7 linked regions of the Homo sapiens genome follow. The protein of the gene in region 6 purifies or fractionates together with the protein of the main gene of each other region. This does not show direct contact. Each region holds a gene or a part of one and is shown on either strand. Other genes may lie near its edges. The genes, in order: SRGAP2, RALGPS2, DENND1A, SH3PXD2A, LPIN3, SH3RF3 and MAP2K4.

Evidence for each region.
Region 1: the proteins of SH3RF3 (region 6) and SRGAP2 purify together in Homo sapiens (affinity purification with mass spectrometry, with the first as the bait; one large-scale study listed by BioGRID). This does not show direct contact.
Region 2: the proteins of SH3RF3 (region 6) and RALGPS2 purify together in Homo sapiens (affinity purification with mass spectrometry, with the first as the bait; one large-scale study listed by BioGRID). This does not show direct contact.
Region 3: the proteins of SH3RF3 (region 6) and DENND1A purify together in Homo sapiens (affinity purification with mass spectrometry, with the first as the bait; one large-scale study listed by BioGRID). This does not show direct contact.
Region 4: the proteins of SH3RF3 (region 6) and SH3PXD2A purify together in Homo sapiens (affinity purification with mass spectrometry, with the first as the bait; one large-scale study listed by BioGRID). This does not show direct contact.
Region 5: the proteins of SH3RF3 (region 6) and LPIN3 purify together in Homo sapiens (affinity purification with mass spectrometry, with the first as the bait; one large-scale study listed by BioGRID). This does not show direct contact.
Region 7: the proteins of SH3RF3 (region 6) and MAP2K4 purify together in Homo sapiens (affinity purification with western blotting, with the first as the bait; one study listed by BioGRID). This does not show direct contact.

What each region holds. Positions count from the first base shown.
Region 1 is NC_000001.11:206,458,541-206,461,738, reverse strand, and holds part of SRGAP2 (SLIT-ROBO Rho GTPase-activating protein 2), read right to left. Parts: intron 3,117-3,198; coding exon 2,792-3,116; intron 2,155-2,791; coding exon of another isoform or gene 2,065-2,154; exon of another isoform or gene 2,060-2,064; intron 703-2,059; coding exon 319-702; 3' UTR 1-318. UniProt on the Homo sapiens protein: Postsynaptic RAC1 GTPase activating protein (GAP) that plays a key role in neuronal morphogenesis and migration mainly during development of the cerebral cortex. Regulates excitatory and inhibitory synapse maturation and density in cortical pyramidal neurons.
Region 2 is NC_000001.11:178,885,744-178,889,243, forward strand, and holds part of RALGPS2 (ras-specific guanine nucleotide-releasing factor RalGPS2), read left to right. Parts: intron 1-225; coding exon 226-377; intron 378-3,500. UniProt on the Homo sapiens protein: Guanine nucleotide exchange factor for the small GTPase RALA. May be involved in cytoskeletal organization. May also be involved in the stimulation of transcription in a Ras-independent fashion.
Region 3 is NC_000009.12:123,920,127-123,923,626, forward strand, and holds part of DENND1A (DENN domain-containing protein 1A), read right to left. Parts: intron 1-3,500. UniProt on the Homo sapiens protein: Guanine nucleotide exchange factor (GEF) regulating clathrin-mediated endocytosis through RAB35 activation. Promotes the exchange of GDP to GTP, converting inactive GDP-bound RAB35 into its active GTP-bound form.
Region 4 is NC_000010.11:103,604,077-103,607,576, reverse strand, and holds part of SH3PXD2A (SH3 and PX domain-containing protein 2A), read left to right. Parts: intron 1-1,659; coding exon 1,660-1,779; intron 1,780-3,500. UniProt on the Homo sapiens protein: Adapter protein involved in invadopodia and podosome formation, extracellular matrix degradation and invasiveness of some cancer cells. Binds matrix metalloproteinases (ADAMs), NADPH oxidases (NOXs) and phosphoinositides.
Region 5 is NC_000020.11:41,343,821-41,347,320, forward strand, and holds part of LPIN3 (phosphatidate phosphatase LPIN3), read left to right. Parts: intron 1-1,975; 5' UTR 1,976-1,983; coding exon 1,984-2,175; intron 2,176-3,500. UniProt on the Homo sapiens protein: Magnesium-dependent phosphatidate phosphatase enzyme which catalyzes the conversion of phosphatidic acid to diacylglycerol during triglyceride, phosphatidylcholine and phosphatidylethanolamine biosynthesis therefore regulates fatty acid metabolism.
Region 6 is NC_000002.12:109,127,705-109,132,004, forward strand, and holds the start of SH3RF3 (E3 ubiquitin-protein ligase SH3RF3), read left to right. Parts: upstream 1-1,500; 5' UTR 1,501-1,836; coding exon 1,837-2,409; exon of another isoform or gene 2,410-2,415; intron 2,416-4,300. UniProt on the Homo sapiens protein: Has E3 ubiquitin-protein ligase activity.
Region 7 is NC_000017.11:12,139,377-12,142,876, forward strand, and holds part of MAP2K4 (dual specificity mitogen-activated protein kinase kinase 4), read left to right. Parts: intron 1-462; coding exon 463-508; intron 509-1,770; coding exon 1,771-1,884; 3' UTR 1,885-3,500. UniProt on the Homo sapiens protein: Dual specificity protein kinase which acts as an essential component of the MAP kinase signal transduction pathway. Essential component of the stress-activated protein kinase/c-Jun N-terminal kinase (SAP/JNK) signaling pathway.

The sequences.
Region 1 (3,198 bases), on a different chromosome or scaffold from region 6:
TGAGCCCATGTCCTCAGGACTGCCTTACCAGATTTCACAGTGACCTGATAATGAAAACCTGTCTCTGGCTAACCTAAGAACGGTACGGACTGCAGCTGGCTGAATTACGACGACTGGGGGAAGCAGAGGGCAGTGGGAAGGGAGAGGCGATACCAAGGGCTTCATTCTCAAGGTTTTGGGAGACGGGGAGGCTAATTCCTGCAAGAACAACTTAGAACCTAATTTTCAACTGAAGTCCCCAAGCTAGTTAAATAGGAAGATTTTAATAACAGTCAGTCCCTATAGTCCCCTTGTCTAGAACAATTAAATTATTATCCCTCAGACAGTACAAGACTTGTCAGTAGACTGTGGGGAAGTTGATGAGTTGACACCAGGGCTAGTGGCATTTGTTTTGGGGAAGACAGTGGGCTTGGGCCGTGTGGCTGGTGGTTTGACCGGGGCAGCCATCTTGACAGACTTGACAGGCCGGAAGGCGCAGGCGATGTCCCCAGCAGTACTGGCGCTGCGCTGGAAGGCGGGCTCGGGGTCCTTGAGGAGCTGGGTGTGCAGAGGGCTGGAGGGCTCTGACGTGGGGGCCACCACTGGGGAGGTTTTGAGGGGCTCCAAGGTGTCCAGAACCACGTCAGGGGTGTGTTTGACACTGCTCTGCCGTTCTAGTTCCCGTAGCTCATTCAGGGCCGAGTTCATTGTTGCCTCAATATCCTGCAAAACAGGAAAAAGGAGGAGGTGAGGCAAATGAGGGGAGAATTCCCCAAGGAGCCGGTTTCAACAACACAGGCCAAGGCATGAAGAAAATGACCGTAAGATGTCCAGATTATTGTACTTGGCCTAAATCTTTGAACATATGAATGCTCAGGAAGTAGGGAAAGGGGGACGGAGGGATTTTCACTGTCATGAGATTTTTTTTTTTCCTTTAGAAAAAGTAATTGATATTTTTTTAGAGACCCTAGGTTTTAGAGATAGATATTGAAATACTTATCGACGAAGTGACATATAATCTAGTGGGGAAGAGAAACACGGACAAAGTAAGAATGGCCAGGAGTTTGGTGATGAGTACATGGGGATTTGTTATCCAGTTCTGTCTGCTTTTGGGTAGGTTTGAAATTGTACATAATAAACACTTTTTTAAAAAGTGGTAGAGATGATGTATGATCTTTATTCTCTTGGACTTCAAGGCCAAAGGTGAAGAGGGTTAGTCCTTCCTCCTCAGGGGCTGAGGAAAGTTTCAGGAGCCCAATACGCCTCCCCCCGCCCCTCCTCCCCAACTCAGGGCAGTGTCCAATTTGAAACCATTTCCTTCCAGCCATCACCACCAAGGGGACAAAAGAATGACCAGGAAGGGGAGCCAAAGCCCACATAGGTGAATCAATTGCCTGCAAATCAATGGAACACTCTAGATCTTTAGCCAACAGCAGTCCTAGCCCAGGGACTCAAGGCAGAACCAAAGAACCTTTGTATGCAAGCCAGCTGCCTTCCAGTGAGACTTCCCAGCTCCCCGCTCCCTCCCCATAAACCTGTGTCTGGCACCCCCAAACTACCACAGGATTTCTTCTTGGGATTAGGTTCACATGGAAAGATTTTACACATTCCAAGCGAAGGCCTTTGGTTAAGGTTTCTTTGTCGTACAGACCGATGCATGCTTTCTGTTCACAGTGATTCAGTTTCACTCATCCCTATGACATTCTCAAACCTTTAAAATGCTCAGGAAGAACTCCATCTCCCTCCTCAGTCGCACTCTACAGCTAGTCTGTCCCAGCTGTCTACCTTTCCTGACATTCCTATTAACACCTGGCCAAGGAGGGAGCTGGGAGGATTCCCGTAGCGCAAGGCAGATTGCAGCCAAGAGCTTAAATAGAGGCACAGAATAGAAGGCTAGCAAAGCAAGACATCTCAGGCCTGTAGCTCAATACTGGGCTTGCCAGGTACATCTCCGTAAGCAGAGAACCACAATTAAGCCAAGAGAGACCATGCCCAGCCTCTATCACCCCCTGGAAGATGGGGTAAGGAGAATCTCAACTCAGTTGAGATAAGAAGGCAACAATAAGCCCTTAGTTCCTACCTGGTCTAATGAAAATTATATAGTTGGGAGAGACGTCTGAGTGAACTGCTTGGAGTGGCCCCGGTAGTCGGATTTTTAGAGGTGGGGTTGGATCTCTAATATTTCATGGAAAACAGAGAGTCATCAGTGCGGTGCATACACAGAAGGAAGACCCTGCAACCAGGGAGCTCATCTCCATAGCCTCTGGAGGCTTGGGCTGCAAATCCTTTTGGTTACCAGAGCTCTCTGCAGCCAGAGTATTTTTTAGGTCTTTAAAACCAGGTGCAGGTTCTTAATTGATCATCTACCCATTCGGTACCAGAGACTAGCCTTAGGAATCGGGATGATGGTGATGGGCACAGCAATATAAACATGTGGCCAGGATTACACCTGATCCTCAACAGTCGGGCAGTTTCACTAAAGTCTACCAAGGTCTTTAGACTCAAAACTTGGGCTTTCAAAATACTCTTAATACCGGCTTTAAAAATTACAACAGCCTTCCTAATAGCCAGTGTATGAGCAAGAAGCTAGGCTTCTTTTATTCTGTCTTTAGGTTCTTCCTGGGGAGAGAGGGACAGGCAGACCACTTATTAAGCTGTCTTATTGGGTCCACATGTCCAGAGTGGACATATACTCAGTATATCACATACAAAATAATCATTCTGTTTCAAGTCCTGTCATAATTAGGTGGGTGGCACTAAGTGGTAGTGATGAATGTAGACTCATGCTGTCTGTCCAGGAGCCCACAGTTACCTGAGCAATGACCTCAGGGTCCATGGGCCGATGGTTATTGAAGCTTTTTGACCTTCCCGCTGTGGCAGTCTTCCGGATCTGTGGACTATCCAGCCGATTCTTCAGGGATGAGTGGCGGCTGATGGAGTTGAGGCTCCCGTGCCCACTGATGGAACACTTATCTGGCCCTTCTTTGGGGAGGCTCTGGCTCATGATGGGCTGGGAGGATGGGCGGCAGCTAGCCCCCACCCCTGGGGAGGAGGAGTCAGTCAGGGAACTGCTCAGCCCATGGCTGTCACTCCGAAAAGTTTTCCGGATGCTCCCAGATTCTGGACGCTTCCTTTGCCTTCAATCACAAACAGAAAGGGCAGTGTGATCAGGGAGCCCTGGCTCCAAGGAAGCTAGGATAAGTGGGAGGGGGCAGATGT
Region 2 (3,500 bases), on a different chromosome or scaffold from region 6:
ACACGAGGCTTAAAATGAAATTATTTTAAAGTATGCTCTAATTATATAGATAGATAGGGCCAGGTTTCCTAAAACATTTTCCCTAAACTGTTCATTTGAGGCTTTTATGGTAAGATCTGAGTATGACAGTTAGGTAAATCTTTTATGTCCTAAATCTTTATATAAAGAGCAGTTTTTAAATTAGTAACAATAATAAAAGATATGAACTTTTTTTTCTGTTTCTAGTTTCATTCATAAAATGAACACAGCAGAATTTAAGAGTGCAACGTTTCCAAATGCAGGACCAAGACATCTGTTAGATGATAGCGTCATGGAGCCCCATGCGCCATCTCGAGGCCAAGCTGAAAGTTCTACTCTTTCTAGTGGAATATCAATAGGTGAGAAATACTTCTCTGAGAGGGTTGCAATTTAACTTTAAATAAAAATGTTAATAAAACTTGGCTGGAAAAAAACCCCACCCACACACAGAGAAAATTTGGTTAAAAAAACAAAGTAGCAGTTAAATATGGGATGAAGTTAATAATTTGTGATGGTTTTAAAAGTGCTTGCTGTTTTTAACTCCAGAAGGGGAAGCATTTGAAGAAGGTGGAAAAAGAACATATGGGCTGGTTGAATTAGTTAACTGCATGTGATTTGGATATGGGGAGGAGGAAGAGTGTGGAGTCAAGAATGACTTCCGGTTATTTGGGTTAAACAAGTATAATAGTTAGATGATGATGCTATTACCAAGGTAGAGAAGACAGAGTAATAATCTGTGGGCAGTGAAGCGTTTGTGAATTTGGGGAATCAGGTGTGTTTTGGACATGTTTAGTCCCTATGGAGATGTCAGGTAGGTTGTTGAATATGTGAATCTGGAGCTCGGGGATAAGGTCAGATCTGAAGATATACGAGAGGTAGCATATTTATAAGCCATGATTGGTTGAGGGTACCTAAAGAGAGAGTGTACATAAATAAAAAAACATTCTCACATTTAGAAGTCTGATTATTTTTTAAAAGAAGGATGAGTCATCAAAGGAAACTAAAAAGGAGAGATCAGTGAAGTAAGGGGAAAAAAACAAAAGCCCAGTAGATGAAGTATCTCAAGGAGGAGGAAAGTACTGAATGTGTGAATATCAAATGCAGAACAAGAGAGCTAAGATGAGAATGGGGAATTGACTGGGGGATTTGGCAAGATAAAAGTCATTGGTGACCTTGATAAGAGTTGCTTCATGGAAGTGTCAGGGCATGGCCTGGATTGGAGTAGATTTGAAAATGAGAGGTGAGGAAACAGAGATAGCTACTGTGAAGGAGAGCAGAAAATAGAGACCATATTAGAAAGGGATGTGAGATTAAGAGAGGGATTTGTTTGTTTTTACTTCCTAAACTTTTAATTTTTGAGTCTTCTAGATGAGCATTATTTCTTGTTACAATTAGAAATTATTCATATAGCCTGGGCAGTGTGGCTCACACCTGTAATCCCAGCACTTTGGGAGGCCCAGATGGGCAGATCTCTTGAGGTCAGGAGTTCAAAATGAGCCTGGCCAACATGGCAAAACCCCATCTCTACTAAAAATACAAAAAGTAGCAGGGCGTGGTGGTGCATGCCTGTAATCCCAGCTACTTAGGAGGCTGAGGCATAGGAATCATTTGAACCCAGGAAACAGAGGTTGCAGCGAGCCATGTTCGCAGCACTGCACTACCCTGCCTGGATCACAGAGCGAGATTCTGTCTCAAAAAAAGAAAGAAATTGTTCATATAATAGCTACTTTTATTTTTAAAAAGAAATAAAGGAGGAATATGTCTTCATCTATGATTAACTACCAGATTGTTCAAGGACTAAGCCTATTGTTACTAATATCTTAATATTGGTAAACAGCCAGTAGAAGGAGATGCAAAAGGAGATTGATTTTCTGGAACATACTGACTTTCTTAGCCCTTGAGAGTTAAAATTAAATTATTTCAGAGCTCTCCATTACCATTCAGTAGTTGTTTATTCTGATAGTCCCCTTTTTATATAAAAATACAAGTGATTAAATGATAAAATGTTTTAAAAAGAAGGCAAGTTTGTCACCTGAAATACCTCTTATCAATGTTCTAAGTTGCCTATATGCAAATACTAATCTCAGTATGAAGAATAATTTTGCAAAAGAAAGAACTTTTTTTCAGTCAAAAATTTTCTACACGTCCATGGAATTTGGCATGCCACTTAAAGCAAAAAGTTTTTAAAATTACAGCTCTCAAGTATATAATATTTTACTCTTTCTCATAAGTGTTATAATGAGAATTATTCTGTAGTTTATAGCTTTTACTTTTCATGGATGTCCTTTTGGCTACCAAAAGATTATTGTTTAGTTATTTTATTGAGTTACAGTTAGTGTCTCAGTGTGGAGACTTTTCTCTTTTAGAGCAGATTTTTGCATTTGTGTTTATTTTTTAATTATTCTAAGGCTAAGTAAGTAAACAGTAAAAGATCATTGCATCCTAGTTTGTAAACTAAGAACATTACACATAGGCATTTACCTTCGAGGATTTTTGTTTTAAAGCTTTAACAATATGAAAAAAAGAATAAGTCTATTACCATAAGATGATAGGTGTTAATATACACACACGAGTTTTTCCCTCAGCTTTAACTTTTACATGCAATATTAATCTACAGTGAAGGCTTTGAAAATACTGTGGGAAAATTAACCAGTGCTTAGAACAATGGCCTTAAACATTTTCTAATGTGGTATCTATCCTAGATAATCTTGAGTAGTCTCACCTAGCTAACTAAGAGAAGCATATTCACTCTGAGCTTCATGCTTACATTTTCTACAAATAAGTTATCCTAATTATGCTTAAATTTTCAGTCTTTACCACATAGTGCCACAAATCAAAGGATAATGTAGATAATGTACAAGACCCCACCACCACCACGGGTTACCTCTGGTTCTTCTGAACCATACAATACAGAAAATTATTTCAGTGATTGTTATCTCAGTTTATCCAAGGATGGTACATAACTAGTGCCATTGCAAACCCGTAGAAGGGTATTAATCCATCGTCTCTAAGAGAGACGAGTCTAATGGATACCTTACAGCATCCATTACAGGTGTCTGATGGATACCTTACAGCATTAGAATTTGAGTCTCTCAGAACCCTGCCCGTAAAAAAGAGTTTGAGTCTCTCTTCTTAGAACCCTGTCTGATAGACAATTTAACTTGACCTATTAATCATCCTAATTTTTTTGAGAGCCAGAATTACCTTTAAAGTAACATTTAAGTAAACTAAGCTGTTTTGGACTCTCTAAATTCATTCCCCATAGTTTTTTTGTTGGTTTTTTTTCCCCCTAGCTAATTGTAAACGTTCTGTTTGAAGACCATTTTATTTTAACTGATCTTTTGGCCAAAGAGAAAATTGTTGCATTTTTATAGCACCGGTTTTTGGTTTTTTAAATTTAGAGATTCCATCTTCTTTGTCTCTAGAGACAAATAAGTGGATTTCATTAGGCTTTTTATACTTAGGGTAGTAATGGACTTTAA
Region 3 (3,500 bases), on a different chromosome or scaffold from region 6:
AAAGAATAAAAAATCACTTTAAGGCCGGGCATGGTGGCTCAAGCCTGTAATCCCAGCACTTCGGGAGGCCGAGGCGGGCGGATCACCTGAGGTCAGGAGTTTGAGACCAGCCTGGCCAAACTGGAGAAATCCGTCTCTACTAAAAGTACGAAAAATTAGCCGGACATGGTGGCAGGTGCCTGTAATCCCAGCTACTCAGGAGGCTGAAGCAGAGGAAGCTTGAATCCAGGAGGTAGTAATTGCAGTGAACCAAGATCGTGCCACTGCACTCCAGCCTGGGCGACAAGAGCAAGGCTCTGTCACACACACACAAAAAAAACACTTTAAAAAGACTGAAAAGTAGTACCAGTTAAACAGAGATAAATATAAATTATTTGTATAAATCTTTTATAAAACTGAATAGATTTCCAATATTTATGATAAAGGGAACATTAAGTGGTTTTTTTACTTCAAGACAGGGTCTTGCTCTGTTGCCCAAGCTAGAGTACAGTGGTGCAATCTCAGCTCACTGCAACCTCCCCTTCCCGGGTTCAAGCAGTTCTCACACCTCAGCCTCCCAAGTAGCTGGGATTACAGGCATGCGCCACCATGCCCAGCTAATTTTTGTAATTTTTTTTTTTTTTTTTAGTAGAGATGGGGTTTTGCCATGTTGGCCCAACTGATCTCGAACTCCTGACTTCAAATGATCTGCCTGCTTCAGCCTCCCAAAGTGATGAGATTACAGGTGTGAGCTACCGGGCCTGGCTGGGGACATAAGTGTTCTTAAATGTTATAATTCTAATTGTTTGCACGCTCATCTTACCTGTCTTAGTAGACTATAGGCTTCCTTTCTTCCCAACCAGCAAGAGCAATAGTGCTTTGTATATATCAGCATCTCAATCTTTCAAACAAATTCAGTGAAATACACTACACGTCATCCTAACATTCTTACTGAAAGGAAGCAAATACTTTGGTTTTTAAAAACAAAACCAAAAAAAACTGTAATACTATAAAAAGGAACATACTTGCTGTTTTTTAACTTGTTTTTTAACTCCAGGTTGTTCAGACAACTGTGTTTTCTCCTCTCCAAGCAATATTAATGATAGCTGCCATTTAATAAGCAGTCATATCTCCACTGAGAACTAGGCACAATATCTCTTTTAATTATCACAACAACCCTGTAGGTTAATTTATTAGCTTCCTTCCATAAATATTATTTTTTTAACCTGAAGCTCAGAAATTTAGAACTCAGAGGGAGAATGTATAGTTCTGGGAACTCAGTACTCCAATGCTCACATACCCCTGGCTCCTCTCACACCCCGGAGTTCAAGAACTGCCAGCGTGGAGTCAAACAGTATCTTCTCTAGATTGGTTTCCTTCCTTCCATTTATTCATACAGCCTATGCGAGATCAATGCAACACCCTCAAACCTTTCCTGTGGCTAAAGTGAATTCAAAAGGTGGTTTTTCTTTTCCCCCTCTCTAAATCTACCATGAACAGATTTGCCTTCAGCAATTTAGTCCAGCCCACTTCAAGTCTTACTCATTCAATAAAGCACACACATTCACTATGGATCCCTCAAAGATTCCTTCCATTCTCAATGCAGACTAAAATGCCTTATCCCAATTATAACTTTTCACTTTTCCTCAGAAAAGCAAACATATAACCAGTCCTCACCTCACAAATACTCCATTTGTAACATAACTCTGCTAACCTTGGCAAGTCATCTTTGATTCTTCTTTTGCCTCTTACGTGTAATTTGTCACCAAGTCTTGTCATTTCTACTTAAAATCTCTCAAAGCCATCCTTTTTTTTTTTTTTCTTTTTTCTTTTTGAGACAGGGTCTCACTCTGTCACCCAGGCTGGAATGCAGTGGCGTGATCTTGACTCACTGCAACCTCCGTCTCCTGAGCTCTGTGGGAGCTCAAGTGATCCTCCCACCTCAGCCTCCCAAGTAGCTGGGACCACAGATACATGCCACCACACCTGGCTAATTGTTGTATTTTTTTGTAAAGACAGAGTTTCATCATGTTGCCCATGCTGGTCTCAACTTCCTGGACTCAAGCCATCCACCCTCCTTGGCCTCCCAAAGTGCTGGCATTACAGGCATGAGCCACCACGCCCGGCCTGTCATTCCTTTTCTTTACACTGCCAAAACCTTGCTCTGGACCTTGATCTTCAGCAGTAAAAACTATTTACACAGTTCCACAATCCAGTGGCCTCCCATTTTTTTCCATGCATTCTTCCTATCAGTAAAAAAGTGAGCATACATCTGATAAATATCCATAAATTATAATAATGCCTTACTATACTAACACATACATTAAAAAATACAAACTTTGAAGGTTGATATAAAAATAAATACAATTTCTAACATATTCTCACGTTCCAATGCGTCATCTTGTAAAAGCCAGAGATATCACTGTTCTAAACTGCTGCTGCCAGGGTAATCTACCTAAAAACCCAAATCTGATCATAGTACATCCCCAGTTCAACCCTTCAATGGCATCATATCCCACTGGCACATGCCTACTTCATCAACTTCCTCTCCTGTAATCTTTATCCTTATATCCTGTATTTCAGCTTTACCTTTTATCTCCCCATGACTTTTGCATACACAGTTCCCTATATCTGGAATGCCCTTGCCCTCAACAGTTACTGATTTGTACATAACAGTATCTTGAAGAGGGAAACACATTCTAAATGTCATAACCAACGTCCAAATGAACTTTTGGAATGTCACCTCTCTTTTCTATAGGAACATATATGTATTTTAACATATCTTTTCTTACTTTATTTGGCTCCTTTTCAAGTCCTGAATACTCGGAAAGAATGGGTACGGATTCCAATAAAAGTAGAGAACAAAACAACTTCATTTTGTTTATTTTTCTTCCTTGTTTATCTTTCCATGTCCCTACAAAGCCCCTTTAAGCAAAAAGGATGTTACGAACCCAGAGATTAGCTCTCCCTAGGGCCAGGAAAAAGGCTGGACCTTTGCAACTGCAACCGGAACTCCAGCCAGGAACTTACACAGATTTAATAACTCAATGCAAACATACTTTCCTAGAGCAATACTCCAGGTCTTACCTTCTGTTTCAACCTTCCTATCTGCTGTACAATGCCCTCTAAGTTGACTACAATGGCTAAGAAAAGAGTGATGGAGTAGCACCAACATGTTTTCCAGAAAAGTCATGAAAATTCAAGTGGCTGACTCTGAGCACTAACGATGGAGAGCTTGGTCTTCAAAGAGACTTTTATTCCACCACTCCAAGTCTCTCTACATTCTCCTTTGGGGACAGGGAGGACAGCACTGTGGCGGAGAAAGGGAAGAGGGGAATAGGCATTAGAGGAAGAAGGCCTGGAAGGAAGTCACATTCCAATTCTTGGTCTCATCACAAAGCAGAGAGATACGTTAGTTGTGCTATACAACAGGCCTCAAGAAAAAGCAAACTTTTTGTGTATTTTGGCAATGGGATCCTTTAAACAAACTGGAGCAGAGCTATCATAAGCCAACACTGCTC
Region 4 (3,500 bases), on a different chromosome or scaffold from region 6:
CCTCACCTCCCGGACGGGGCGGCTGGCCGGGCAGGGGGCTGACCCCCCCACCTCCCTCCCGGACGGGGCGGCTGGCCGGGCAGAGGGGCTCCTCACCTCCCAGTAGGGGCGGCTGGGCAGAGGCGCCCCTCACCTCCCGGACAGGGCGGCTGGCCTGGCGGGGGCTGACCCCCACCTCCCTCCCGGACGGGGTGGCTGCTGGGCGGAGACGCTCCTCACTTCCCAGACGGGGCAGCTGCCGGTCGGAGGGGCTCCTCACTTCTCAGACGGGGCGGCTGCCGGGCGGAGGGGCTCCTCACTTCTCAGACGGGGCGGTTGCCAGGCGGAGAGTCTCCTCACTTCCCAGACGGGGCGGCTGGGCAGAGAGGCTCCTCACCTCCCAGACGGGGTCGCGGCCGGGGAGAGGCGCTCCTCACATCCCAGACGGGGCGGCAGGGCAGAGGCACTCCCCACATCTCAGACGATGGGCGGCTGGGCAGAGACGCTCCTCACTTCCTAGATGGGATGGCGGCCGGGAAGAGGCGCTCCTCACTTCCTAGATGGGATGGCGGCCGGGCAGAGACGCTCCTCACTTTCCAGACTGAGCAGCCAGGCAGAGGGGCTCCTCACATCCCAGACGATGGGCGGCCAGGCAGAGACGCTCCTCACTTCCCAGACGGGGTGGCGGCCGGGCAGAGGCTGCACTCTCCGCACTTTGGGAGGCCAAGGCAGGCGGCTGGGAGGTGGAGGTTGTAGGGAGCCGAGATCACGCCGCTGCACTCCAGCCTGGGCACCATTGAGCACTGAGTGAACGAGACTCCGTCTGCAATCCCGGCACCTCGGGAGGCCGAGGCTGGCGGATCACTCGCGGTTAGGAGCTGGAGACCAGCCCGGCCAACACAGCGAAACCCCGTCTCCACCAAAAAAACACGAAAACCAGTCAGGCATGGCGGCGCGCGCCTGCAATCGCAGGCACTCGGCAGGCTGAGGCAGGAGAATCAGGCAGGGAGGTTGCAGTGAGCAGAGATGGCAGCAGTACAGTCCAGCTTCGGCTCGGCATCCGAGGGAGACCGTGGAAAGAGAGGGAGAGGGAGACCGTGGGGAGAGGGAGAGGGAAGGGGAGGGGGAGGGGGAGAGCTTTTTTTTTTTTTTTTTTTTTTTTTTTAGCAAATTCTTCCAGATCCTGAGAGAGCCCATCTCTACCAAAAAAAAAAAAAAAAATTAACCAGGTGTGGTGGTGTGTGCCTGTAGTCCCAGCTACTGGGGAGGCTGAAGTGGGAGGATCACTTGAGCCCAGGAGATGGAGGCTGCAGTGAGCTCTGATTACTCCACTGCACTCTAGCCTGGGTCCCAAAGCAAGACCCTATCTCAGAGTAATGATGATGATGATGATGATGATGATGATGATGATGATGATGATAGTAATAGTAATGTGAGAATTTTGATAGCTCAGACAAGTCTTCCGTGAGTCCTGAGTATTATTAGAAAGCCTCATCAGAGTAGTCCCCTGGCGATATATACCCTGAGACTCCCATGATAGATACGTACTCAGGCCAGCTGCTGTCCAGCTGGTGTAAACGGCCATCCGCACCCCCTGGGGACTGAGTGGGGACCAACCCTTGGCCAAGTTACTCTTCTGATTTAGGCGGGTTTTGCCCACTGTGTGTTCCTTAACCTTAGGGGTTCCAACTGCCAAAGCCACCAGAGCCCCCTTCTGTTGAGGTGGAGTACTACACCATTGCCGAATTCCAGTCGTGCATTTCCGATGGCATCAGCTTTCGGGGTGGACAGAAGGCAGAGGTAAGCCTTGGGCCATGAGGCCGAGGGTTTTAACTCATTGTGGTGGAAAACCTACTGCATTTCCCATTTTAGGCCTTGCTAGTAAGATTCCTGAGGGGCAGGCAGGCAGGAAAGGTACAGAAATGAGCCCCACAAAGATGAGCATCTGCCTGGCGCTGGCCAGTGCCATGGCCTAAACTAGATCCCAGCTCTCACGCTCCACCCTGAGCTCACAGGGCTTGTCTCACAACATTTCCCAGAGCATGTGCAGGAGCTTGTGACAGGGGGGCCTTGAAACAAAGGGCTTCTTTGGTCAAATGAGCTTGCAGGACAGTGGATTAAACAAAATCCAACCCATTTGTTGTTTTAATTGCAGGGCTTCCCAGAGCCTAGGATACAAGGATGTCACTGGGAGTGTCACCTACAAGGGGTCTAGAATAGACAGCATTGCCCAACCCCACAAGCTTTCTCTCCCAGGAACATCTCAGGGCCAGGATCCTGCAGAAGCCACATCAGGAAGTGTTGTTAGGAGGATGTGGACCAGGCAGGTAGACTGAGATACTGGGGACCTGGGCTCTGGCCAAGTCCACACCACATGACCCCTGGCCTTTGATGCAGTCACTTCTCTCACCCGCCACCCCCAACTTTAAGCATTTCTCTCTGCAAAACAGGGTGATAGATCCTGGGACGCCCCTCCACCCCCCAGCATGTCTTCCAGCATTCATGCCACTCTATTTTGTGGCTGGGGCTGAGCATGGTATTCCCGGCAGCAGAGAAGAGCTGTAACTTAGTCAATTCTCTGAGTGGCTTTGTGTAGTAATTGAGTTAACTCCATCTAATACAAGTGAACCTGTCAGACTCATTGGGCAGTCTCTGCCTCTAAAGCAGTGACATTCCCAATGTGAATGTTTTAAATCACATGCCTGGAACTTGCAACTAAATTTCCAAGAAAAATCATTCTCTCTGTACTGAGGTTTCCAGGAGAGTCTGTAAAGAGCATAATGTGGCAGAACTGTCAGGCTCAGGAGCCACCTGTGCTTGAACTGTAGGTACAGGGCTGGGGCAGGGTGAAGGACAGAATGTAGGACCCAAAGAAGGAGAAAATCTTTCTCTTCTAGTGGGGGATGCAGAGGACTGGTCTCTTCTTGCCTTTGCATTCTTCACCTTTCCCTCCCTCCTTGGCCCTCTTCCCATAGTGCCAGTGTTTTCACGCTACCCCTTCCCCACCCCAGGACCTTTTCCTCCAGGAGTGTCCCACAATCCCCAGTTATCTGCCCTTTATGTTCCCCAGTCCAAATGGACCCCAGCACAACCAGCAGCCACACTTTTGGCCATTGGTTGATCTCCAGAAGTTAAGGAAGAAGCTCCTTAAACCAGTTTATACTAACATGGAAATGACTGAAAGCCCCCTGCCCTTCCTACAGGAAACCAATCAACCCAAAGAAATCTCTTCAGCTAGTGGGATTTCAGTGGGATTCCAGTAAGATGACCACAGCGGGTGGATCCTGGGGAAAGGCTCTGCAGAGAGGCTCTGGCCTCGGGCCTGTACCTCCCAGGTCACTTCATCTGCATCTTCCCATACTCTTCTGACCCTAGAGACCCTTTCAAGGAACTCAAAGGGAGGACCTAGCAACATCGAGGGTACGAGGAGGGAAGGGGCAGCAGAAGGGCAGTGTTTTCTTCATACGTGTCCTTAGTCTACTGGCAGGATTGTAGGGACTGGGAACAGTGCAGTTTAGGGG
Region 5 (3,500 bases), on a different chromosome or scaffold from region 6:
AGGCCAAGGTGGGAGGATCACTTGAGTCCAGGAGTTTGAGACCAACGTGGGCAACATAGTGAGACCCTGTCTCTACAAAAGAAATTTAAAAGTTAGCCAGTTATGGTGGTACATGCCTGTAGTCCCAGCTACTCAGGAGGCTGAGGCAGGAGGATCACTAGAGCCTGGGAGGTTGAGGCCGCAGTGAGTCATTTTGGTGCCACTGCACACCAGCCTGGGTAACAGAGTGAGATCCTGTCTCAAAAAAAAAAAAGAAAAGAAAAGAAAAGAAAAATATGCAGATGCTGATTCAGTAGGGCTGAGTTGGGCCTAAGTTTCTGTTTCTAACAAGCTCCCAGGTGATGCTGATGCTGATGTTTGTTGCTGGTGCATACCACATTTTGAGTGCAGGGCATTGCAGGGCTGTGCAGAAGTGGCCATGGGCCATGCAACCAACTCTTGGGTGGTTTGGAAGCATGGAGTGGAAGGAGACCATGCTCTAGAGTCAGGAGAGCTGGATATGAGTCTTTACTCCCTCTCTCCCCTCCCTATACCCCTTCTATGGCCTGTCAGCTTAGAAGAGCTTGAATAGTTTCCTCACCTGTAAAGTCACTTAACCTTGGGTAAGTCACTTAGCTTCTTTGCTAAGTGGTCTTGCATGGCAGGCTGTCCTCCAGGGGTTCTGACCCAGGGTCTGAGAGAAGAAAGTGCTCTGTAGAGATAGGACAGTCTGGGTCTTGGCAGGCAGAGGGGCAGCAGGCCACTGGCCTGGCCAGGAGGGCAGGGGTGATCACCTGAAGCTGCTGGGGCAGGCACTGTGCCAGCTTGGAGGAGGCTCTCATCATAGCCCTGTTTTTTCTCTGAGGCCGCCTCAGCCTCCTGCTTTGGGCTTACCCAGGCCTGTCTGGTGTGGGAAAGCTGGAGAGACCGGTCTGGCTGGGGGAGGGAGCAGCTTCAGTGGGCTGAGGCCAGCCCAAGGCCTGATTGTGGGTCTGAGCGCCTAGCCAGCTCAGCCCTGGTCTGAGGAGCTGGGGTTAGGGTTGAAATTGGGGTCTGAGAACTATAGCCTGGACACCGCTGGGGTCAGGCTGTGCATGGACAGGCTTCCCACCAGGGAAACTGGGAAGGAATTTGTAGTTTGGGGCCTTAAGCCCCCAGCTATAGGGGATGCTCTGCCTTGAGCATCTGACCCCAGGAATGGGGCTGAACAGAGCCTTGAGTACCTGGGGTGCTCCCACCCTTGGTCCCCCATAAGTCAGCTACAATCGCCCAGCAAGACACCTTCCAACTCACAGGACCAGCAGATAGCAAGACAGCTGAGCCCATTTCTCAGATGGAAAAGTGGAGGCTCCTTCGTTCCCACTTCTTGGGAAAAGAAGAGTACTCATTAGCACAGTCACCCATTATCCAGCAGGGCCCTGGGCCTGCTATCTAATGAGGCTGCCCCCTCTTCCCACCCCCTCCGTTTTCACAGTTGGACCATCCCAGTGGAACCACACAAACCTGGGTTCAGATCTCAGGTTCCCTCCTTCATAGTTATGAGGCTCTGGGCAGGTCACTCCACCTCTCTGAGCCTCTGCTGGCTCATCTGTAAACAGGAATAATGACACCCGCTCAGCCAGCCCCACAGGGTTGTTGTGAAGATGAAATGAGCCGTACCCACGGAACACTGTGGTCATTATCATTAGTCATGGCATTTAGAGGCACGAGGCAACTGGGTATTGTTTTACCTTGTGCCCTATTTTACAGATGTGGACATCGGCACTTGGGGAAGGAGGCGGCTGCCCAAGGGTCCCTTAGCAGGGCAGTGGGCAAGCTGGGGTTAGACCCACATCTACAGGTGTACCTCCCATCGCACAGCTGCTGCCATCTGTGCAAAGGCACTCCAAGGCGTGACACAAATGTAAACTTGGGGGTCTGTGTGGTCAGGCTGCAGGAGCTTCTTGTGGAGGAGCTGGAGCAGACCTTTGTGCAAGCCACTGCCTTTCTTTGCCAGCACCAGCCATGAACTACGTGGGGCAGCTGGCGGAGACGGTGTTTGGGACGGTGAAGGAGCTGTACCGGGGCCTGAACCCAGCCACACTGAGCGGCGGCATTGACGTGCTGGTGGTGAAGCAGGTGGACGGCTCGTTCCGGTGCTCACCCTTCCACGTGCGTTTTGGCAAGCTGGGCGTCCTGCGGTCGCGGGAGAAGGTGGTGAGTGCTCAGGCTGGCTGAGGTGGCTACTGCAGAGTGGGCTTTTTAAGCTGGGGCAGCCACTACAGTCCCAGGACAGGACCTGGGGCCTCCCTTAGGTGGGGATCTGTCCTCTGGACAGGCTTCCCTTCATTTGTACTTTCTTTGAAGGTTTTTGGGTTGATTTGGGGGTTTTGGTCTGGGAGGGTTCACAGTTAGTTTCTCATGGAAACAGACCAGTAGGGCTCATCCCAGTGCTGGGGCCGTCAGACCTGGCTCAGCTTACTAAGACCTTACCTGTGTGTTCTTGGTAAGTCACTTCATGCCTCTGAGCCCAGTTACTTCACCTGCACAAATGGATATGATTTTATCGGCCTAATGATGCTGGTGGGACAAGTCAATAGCAACTGATAATACTGTCTCAGGGCCAGCTATGTGGGAAACACTCAAATGTTAGTTTCTCTCTCTTAATAAATCCACTTCAGGCTGGGCATGGTGGCTCACGCCTATAATCCCAGCACTTTGGGAGGCCGACGCTGGTGGATCACCTGAGGTCAGGAGTTTGAGACCAGCCTGGCCCACATGGTGAAACCCAGTCTCTACCAAAAATAGAAAAATTAGCCGGGTGTGGTGGTGGGCACCTGTAATCCCAGCCACTCCGGAGGCTGAGGCAGGAGAATCGCTTGAATCCAGGAGGCAGAGATTGCAGTGAGCCAAGATTGTGCCATTGCACTCTAGCCTGGGCGACAAGAGCGAAACTCCGTCTCAAAAAATAAATAAATAAATAAAAATAAATAAATAAATCCATTCCACCTTCACAGGGCTCAGGCAAGCACAGCAGAGATTTTTGTTAGCAGCAAGGTCTAGGGTGTGAATCAAGATTCACACTGAGGCAACTGTGACGTTTCCAGGATCCTAATAGAAAAGTGTAGCCTATGGGAAATAGTATATCTAAGAGGCTAGTAGCTTGGGTTGTAGACTCAGCCTTTTTGGCTTCATAAGCTCACTTGCTGTGAGGCTGCCTCCTAACCAATTACTCAAACCCCCAAAGCCTCAGTTTCCTCATCTGTAAAGTGGAGGTAATGATAGGAGCTACTGCAAGGGGTTGCAGAGATTAAATGAGATAATCTATAGAAAACACTCCACAAAGGGCCAGTACACTAAAATTCCCACCATTGTTTATGCAGCCAATAACCTGGGGGCTGGGGACACAGCGATCACAAGAGAGACCACGTCCCTATTCTTATGGATGTGAGAGACAGAGGGAAGAACTTGGAAACCAGGCAATACACAAGAAGACCGAGACAGTGACAAGTACAATGAGGCTCAGACAGTGGGGCAGTGTG
Region 6 (4,300 bases):
GCCAGGCGTGGTGGCGCACCTGTAGTTTCAACTATTCAGGAGGCTGAGGTGAAAGGATGGCTTGAGCCCAAGAGTTTGAGGCTGCAGTGAGCCGTGATAGCACCCCGCGCTCTAGCCTGCCTGACAGAACGAGATCCTGTCTAAAGCTATGGAAGTAAATATAAATAAATAAAATAATTATCTGGCAGAGCTGTTTAGAGGATTAAATAATATATAGCACGCTCTTGGCCTTTTAGCCTCAACAAATACTACTTTTTTCCTTAATAATAACAGAAAGATCATACAACTTCACAAACCACAAGGACAGGCTGGCCGATAGGCAGGCCCCCCACGACTCTTCTGATGTTAGCCCTGACTGAACTCGCTGTGCAGCGTCCAACCAATCCTGGTTTGTGCTGGGCCCTGGACTGGAACCCAGCCCTTCCCGACGGGAACGCAAAGCGGCCACGAGGGGGCAGCGCACGGCAGGGAATCTTCGCCGCCGACCCCAGCCCACCGCCAAACTTCCCTGCTGCTCTCGGTCCTCCTGTACGTACTTCCGTTGCTCTGACGCTCCCAGAAGCCGGGGCGTCGGGAAGGAGAGCGCGAATTCACCCTCCTCTGCGCCTCCGTAGGAAAAAATTGGAGCGGGGGTTCACGAGACTGCGCCGCGGCGGGCGCTAGAGCCCCTCGCACAGCGTCGCCAAGGGTGCGGCGTGGAGCCGGGCGCCTGGCGCCAGGGTGCTGGTCGGCGGGCAGCGGCGCCAGCCTCCGACCCGCGACTCCGGCGAGCCAAGGCTGCGCCGGGAGGAGTCGGCGCGGGCCCCGGGGTGCCCCCTTCAACTGGAGCGCCTTCCCCTCCTGCCTTGCGGCGCATCCCCACACCTACACCGGAACGAAGCTCCGGGGCTGTCACTTCTGCGCGCTTCTCGGAAAGGAGTCTGAACTGGGAGCGCTCCGGGGGGTCGTCGGGGAGGATGCCCGGGCGTCGGCTGTGTCCCCAAGCTGCTCGCCGGCGCTGGCGAGGAAGGCAGTCGGGATAACGCCGCCCAAACTTTCCTTCGCAGCAGCGTTGGCAGGAAACGTCCCTCTCTGAGGCTCACGAAAAGCCGAAAAAGACTCGGACGCTTGGAGGAGGCAGGGCCAAGCCTGCGCAGGAGAGGTTCCCCGGAGCCCTGGAGATGTCCTAGGGGACCAGGCTAATCGCCGGCTTGCGCCCAAGCGAAGGGAAGTCCTGCAGGCACGGCGCCTCCTTCCCTGAGCCCCGCAGTGACCGTGACCTCCGCGCGCACCCCCGCGCACGTGCTCGCGGCCGAGGAAGAGGAACGGTCCTGCTGAATCCTCTGGAGGACAGCGACTAGCGAGCAGGCCAGGGGCGCATGGAGGTGCCGCGGGGGCGGTGCGGCTCGCCAGCTGCGCGGAGGAGCGTGCACGCCGCGCCCCGGCCTCCCCGGGGACCTGGCCGGCCGCTGCCCGCACTTCCTGCCGCTGGTCTCCCAGGCGCGAGCCGCCGCTTGCAGCACAGAACCCGTTGAGCTTCGTGCCCGGCAGCACCCCCGGTCCCCCGCGCGGGGCGGACTTGCGGCGGGACAGGTGTAGCCCGCAGCCGCAGGCGCTGCGCTCAGGACTGGGCGGGCTCGGCTGGCCGGTCCCCGCCACGCAGGCCGGTCCCCGCCACGCAGGCCGGTCGGTGAGCCACTTCGCACCGCCACAGCCCTAGCATCGGGCCACCAGCCGGGGTGAAGAAAGTCACGGCGGAGCCCGGCTCCCCAGTCCTGATGCTGGCTGCCGGTGGCGGGCTCCACGCCGGCCCCGGGACCTAGGCAGCCGCGCGAGACCGCTGCGGGCGCCTCCCCCATGCTGCTCGGAGCGTCCTGGCTGTGCGCATCCAAGGCGGCCGCCGCTGCTGCGCAGAGCGAGGGCGACGAGGACAGGCCAGGCGAGCGACGGCGGCGTCGGGCGGCGGCCACCGCCGCGGGGGCGGGCGAGGACATGGACGAGTCGTCGCTGCTGGACCTGCTGGAGTGCTCCGTGTGTCTGGAGCGCCTGGACACCACGGCCAAGGTGCTGCCATGCCAACACACTTTCTGCCGCCGCTGCCTGGAGAGCATCGTGTGCTCGCGCCACGAGCTGCGCTGCCCCGAGTGCCGCATCCTGGTGGGCTGCGGCGTGGACGAACTGCCCGCCAACATCTTGCTGGTGCGACTGCTGGACGGCATCCGTCAGCGGCCCCGCGCGGGCACCAGCCCCGGCGGCAGCCCGCCCGCGCGTCCCATCCCAGGCCAGAGTGCGGCCCCCACGCTCGCGGGCGGCGGGGGCGGCGCGGCAGGCAGCACCCCGGGTTCCCCGGTTTTCCTCTCCGCGGCCGCGGGCAGCACCGCCGGCAGTCTGCGGGAGCTGGCGACCAGCAGGACCGCGCCGGCGGCAAAGGTGAGTATCTGTCTCGGCGGAAGTGGCCACGGCACGTGGGAGTGTGTGGGTGGGTGCTTGGGCGTGGGGGGCAGTGATGAGGTGCGGAGGAGACCACGGGTGGTCCTGCGTTGGCCCACTCCGCTGTTGCTCTTCCTCCAACTTCGCTTGCTTGGTGGCGGCATCCGGCCCCTGGGCAGCTCGCCGCTTGTTCACGTGTGTCCCATCCTCCTGTGGAGTGGGCACGCCTTCCTGTCCCGTCGCTCACCCCCGATTCCTTGGCCGGACTTGTTACCCTGCCTCTTAAACTTAGCATCGCCCTTGCGTCTCCCTAGAAACGGGGACCTTCTTCCTCTGGGTCCCCAGACACTCCCTCTGCACACCCTGGGCCTGCCTAGAGAAAAGTTAGCCCTTAACGTTTCTGACAGGGCTCTGATGGCTGCTCTGGGAAGCCCGCGGGCCTCCTGCCTGCGGTGTGGCTAAGGAGGGGAGGGCAGAAGGCAGAGTGGGACTGGGGTTTGGAGGAATGCTTCTAGTAGTCTGGAAGGAGTTAATCTGGAGGCCCCAGGAGCCTTTTGACCCAGCCCTTTTGGACTTGGCAGTGTCTAACCAGAAGCCAAGGTCTTCTCCTGGGCTCCCAGGCAGGGTTGCATTCCCACGGGGGTCATTTATATTTATTATTATTATTTTTGGTACAGCCGCATTTTAGGGCCTTCGCTGCTTCTGTTTTAGACGAAAGATCTTCTCTGGATGGCTTCAATGATTTGGTTTTAAAAGCTTCTTACAGCTTCTTATTACACACCCTTGCCACCTTGTGAACAGTTACCAGGAGAGAGGGCATGGGATGCTGGTTTAAATGAGAAAAGAAAGGACCCGGGTTTTGTTAATTTCTTTAAATGGAGAAAAGCACTTAAATGTTAAAAAAAATACATTATCTATTGGAATAATCATTTGCTTTAGAAACACAACTTTATTCCTCTACTTTTGACCATTTAAGGAGTTGGTGATGCCTAGTCCTTCCACTATGTGTAATCCTGAAATGCTGGGAACATTCTAGCACCTGGATTAGGCAGTACTGCAAATCTCTAAGGTTAAGGTTAGGAACTTAAACCCTTGGATGTTGAGCTTGAGTTAAATGCCATACTTTGCTGCAATGGGTTTTTTTTTCTATGGATCAGGAAGAATGGGGACAGTCAAGGATAGTCACTGGGGGTCACTTGGGGGGCACTGCTGAAGGGGAATTTTTTTCTTTGGTTTTAATTGTGATTAAATCCAGCTAAATGCTTGCGTTAGAAATTTTCAAACTTTTCCTTCCTGGCCTTGCTGTTTTTGATGTAAGGTATTTATAATTAAATATCTTTATTTGCAGAATAAGTGGGTTACCTTCTTCTGTTCTGATAAATTATGTGATATTCGGAGCCCCGCTTCTAGTAAAACGCTGGGACATTCTGATGACCATCTGTTTACAGATGTCCTCTCAGTTTATCTTGGGGGACTTTGTGTTTGACCAGGAGGTTAGGAGGTAACCTCTGACATGTGACAGGCTGAAGCTTTGATGCCACTCCGGGAATTCTGTGGCATTTGTAGTACCTTTTAGAACTTGTCAAAGGGGTTGAAGCTTGGAACTTTTTAGTAGTGACATTTAGTATTAGCAGGAAATTGATGTTTTACTCACCATATGTTGAGACCCTTGGTTGACTTTCTTTATGGGTGCATAGTCATGTTCATGACTTTTTGTGTTTTTGGGATGTTTCTGGATGTTGTTTAATAGACGAGCACTTATTTAACTAATAAGCAGGAGTCCCGCATGGTGTATTCACACTACACTAGCACTATACTACCATGCTGGGATAATAGCATTAGGTCCAGCACATGCTTCGGGAGTGGGAAGGATTGTAATAGCATATCAGGC
Region 7 (3,500 bases), on a different chromosome or scaffold from region 6:
CTTAAGGATAAATTGATAAAAATGTATATGTAATTTATCTCCCAGAATTACTTGATTGCTGGTTTCTCTTGGGTAGTATCTGCATAAATATCTGTCTACTTATTTATTTACATTTAGAAAAGCATATATGTACACAAATAATTTTATACTTATAAAACATTTATATATTTAACTGTAGTATTCTGTGTAGCTATGCCATAATTTAGTCAATTTTCAAGAATTAATATTTTTTCTAATTTTTAACTAATCATCCTACACTGACTATCCTAGAGATAAATCTTCAGATTATAGACTCACAATTTTTTGTATGTGCTTTTACTGTGTTTAGCAGGCTGTCTGCGTTGTTACTTTGGATCTGAAGGAAAGAACTATTTCATTATTTGTAATATTTCATCTGTGAAAAGAAAAATACTTAGGCAAATGAATCTACATTTTAATAATGTTATTTTTATGTTATTTTAGCCTTACGAAGGATGAATCCAAAAGGCCAAAGTATAAAGAGCTTCTGGTGAGTGTGGGACTGTGGGGATTGTAGGTACATCCTAACCCCGGAACTCTCTTAACATGCTGGTTCACTAAGCAAGCAGTGGGCCTCTCTGTCATAAACAAACATCTCAAATTTATTGAGTGTTTTTTGTTAATGTTTTTACACAAAGATTTGGAAAGAGAAAATTTGCAGTTATAATTTTTCTACTAATACTAGCTAAATTCTCATGGAAAATTTTGGTCTTAACATGTTATAAAAATTACCCCCAAAGAATTCTGACTTTAAGAAGCCATTTTCCACTGCATAGTCTATTTATATGGGATGCAGCCATAAGAAAAAAATTAGTGAAAATTTGTGTTTATTCTGCCTTTATAAAATTCATGCAAATTTACGTCATATAGCCTATTCCCATTTCTTTGAAAGTTCTCATTCATCCCATGGAACTTGGGTGTTTTAAGCAGTCTACTGGGTATGGCATTGGTGGGGCAGGGAGAAAGTGTTGTGATCTAATAATGTGGGAATATTTTAAGAAAAGATCCATTTGTTTGTCACATTTAACTACTAGCTCTTCAAGGATGTTGTGACAAACTTATATCACAGTCCACCAATGACTGTAAAAATATCTAGTCAACATACTTAGTCTGTAAAAGAAAACTGTTGCTAGAGATGGAGTTTTAAAAGGTGGGTTAGTGAAGCAGATACTGGGACCCTGGCTCTGGAGAGTACAGGGAAGAAGCTCCTGGGGCAAATTTCTCTTGGGCCTCTTTTGGTCAAAAGAATTACAGCCTTTTTGTTAAAAGGTCAAAAGAAGAGGTCAAAAGGATTGCGACCTTTTTGTAAAAAGGTCCTCCTGTTGTATATAGGAGAAATGGAGGTTGAGATTTATATTGGTGTCCCAAGAGGAATAGTGACTGGCATTTGCGTCATTCTTCTTAGCTCTTAGATGGTGTGGTGGAGGCTCCAGCTATGTTTTGTGCTGAGTGACAACTTGGCTGTCTTCCTCAACAAACACTCCCTGGTATACAGATGAGTTTCCAGACCTCACTGCCAAGGTGGCACCTTCAGATCATTACCACGTATCCTCTCTCTAGGCATGCCCATGCCCATTAGCATATCTGCATGGAATAAAGGCTGTACTCGCCTCTCTGAACTTGTAGTGTTGCGGTATTTCATAGCTATGTGTGGTTGGGAGCCTGGAGTTCTATGTTCTATAGAAATTGGAAAATGTTCAGTTTGGGCTGTCATACAAACTTTTGACTTTTTTGTTTTCAATTTTCTTGCAGAAACATCCCTTTATTTTGATGTATGAAGAACGTGCCGTTGAGGTCGCATGCTATGTTTGTAAAATCCTGGATCAAATGCCAGCTACTCCCAGCTCTCCCATGTATGTCGATTGATATCGCTGCTACATCAGACTCTAGAAAAAAGGGCTGAGAGGAAGCAAGACGTAAAGAATTTTCATCCCGTATCACAGTGTTTTTATTGCTCGCCCAGACACCATGTGCAATAAGATTGGTGTTCGTTTCCATCATGTCTGTATACTCCTGTCACCTAGAACGTGCATCCTTGTAATACCTGATTGATCACACAGTGTTAGTGCTGGTCAGAGAGACCTCATCCTGCTCTTTTGTGATGAACATATTCATGAAATGTGGAAGTCAGTACGATCAAGTTGTTGACTGTGATTAGATCACATCTTAAATTCATTTCTAGACTCAAAACCTGGAGATGCAGCTACTGGAATGGTGTTTTGTCAGACTTCCAAATCCTGGAAGGACACAGTGATGAATGTACTATGTCTGAACATAGAAACTCGGGCTTGAGTGAGAAGAGCTTGCACAGCCAACGAGACACATTGCCTTCTGGAGCTGGGAGACAAAGGAGGAATTTACTTTCTTCACCAAGTGCAATAGATTACTGATGTGATATTCTGTTGCTTTACAGTTACAGTTGATGTTTGGGGATCGATGTGCTCAGCCAAATTTCCTGTTTGAAATATCATGTTAAATTAGAATGAATTTATCTTTACCAAAAACCATGTTGCGTTCAAAGAGGTGAACATTAAAATATAGAGACAGGACAGAATGTGTTCTTTTCTCCTTTACCAGTCCTATTTTTCAATGGGAAGACTCAGGAGTCTGCCACTTGTCAAAGAAGGTGCTGATCCTAAGAATTTTTCATTCTCAGAATTCGGTGTGCTGCCAACTTGATGTTCCACCTGCCACAAACCACCAGGACTGAAAGAAGAAAACAGTACAGAAGGCAAAGTTTACAGATGTTTTTAATTCTAGTATTTTATCTGGAACAACTTGTAGCAGCTATATATTTCCCCTTGGTCCCAAGCCTGATACTTTAGCCATCATAACTCACTAACAGGGAGAAGTAGCTAGTAGCAATGTGCCTTGATTGATTAGATAAAGATTTCTAGTAGGCAGCAAAAGACCAAATCTCAGTTGTTTGCTTCTTGCCATCACTGGTCCAGGTCTTCAGTTTCCGAATCTCTTTCCCTTCCCCTGTGGTCTATTGTCGCTATGTGACTTGCGCTTAATCCAATATTTTGCCTTTTTTCTATATCAAAAAACCTTTACAGTTAGCAGGGATGTTCCTTACCAAGGATTTTTAGCCCCAAATCTCTCATATTCGCTAGTGTTTAAAAGGCTAAGAATAGTGGGGCCCAGCCGATGTGGTAGGTGATAAAGAGGCATCTTTTCTAGAGACACATTGGACCAGATGAGGATCCGAAACGGCAGCCTTTACGTTCATCACCTGCTAGAACCTCTCGTAGTCCATCACCATTTCTTGGCATTGGAATTCTACTGGAAAAAAATACAAAAAGCAAAACAAAACCCTCAGCACTGTTACAAGAGGCCATTTAAGTATCTTGTGCTTCTTCACTTACCCATTAGCCAGGTTCTCATTAGGTTTTGCTTGGGCCTCCCTGGCACTGAACCTTAGGCTTTGTATGACAGTGAAGCAGCACTGTGAGTGGTTCAAGCACACTGGAATATAAAAC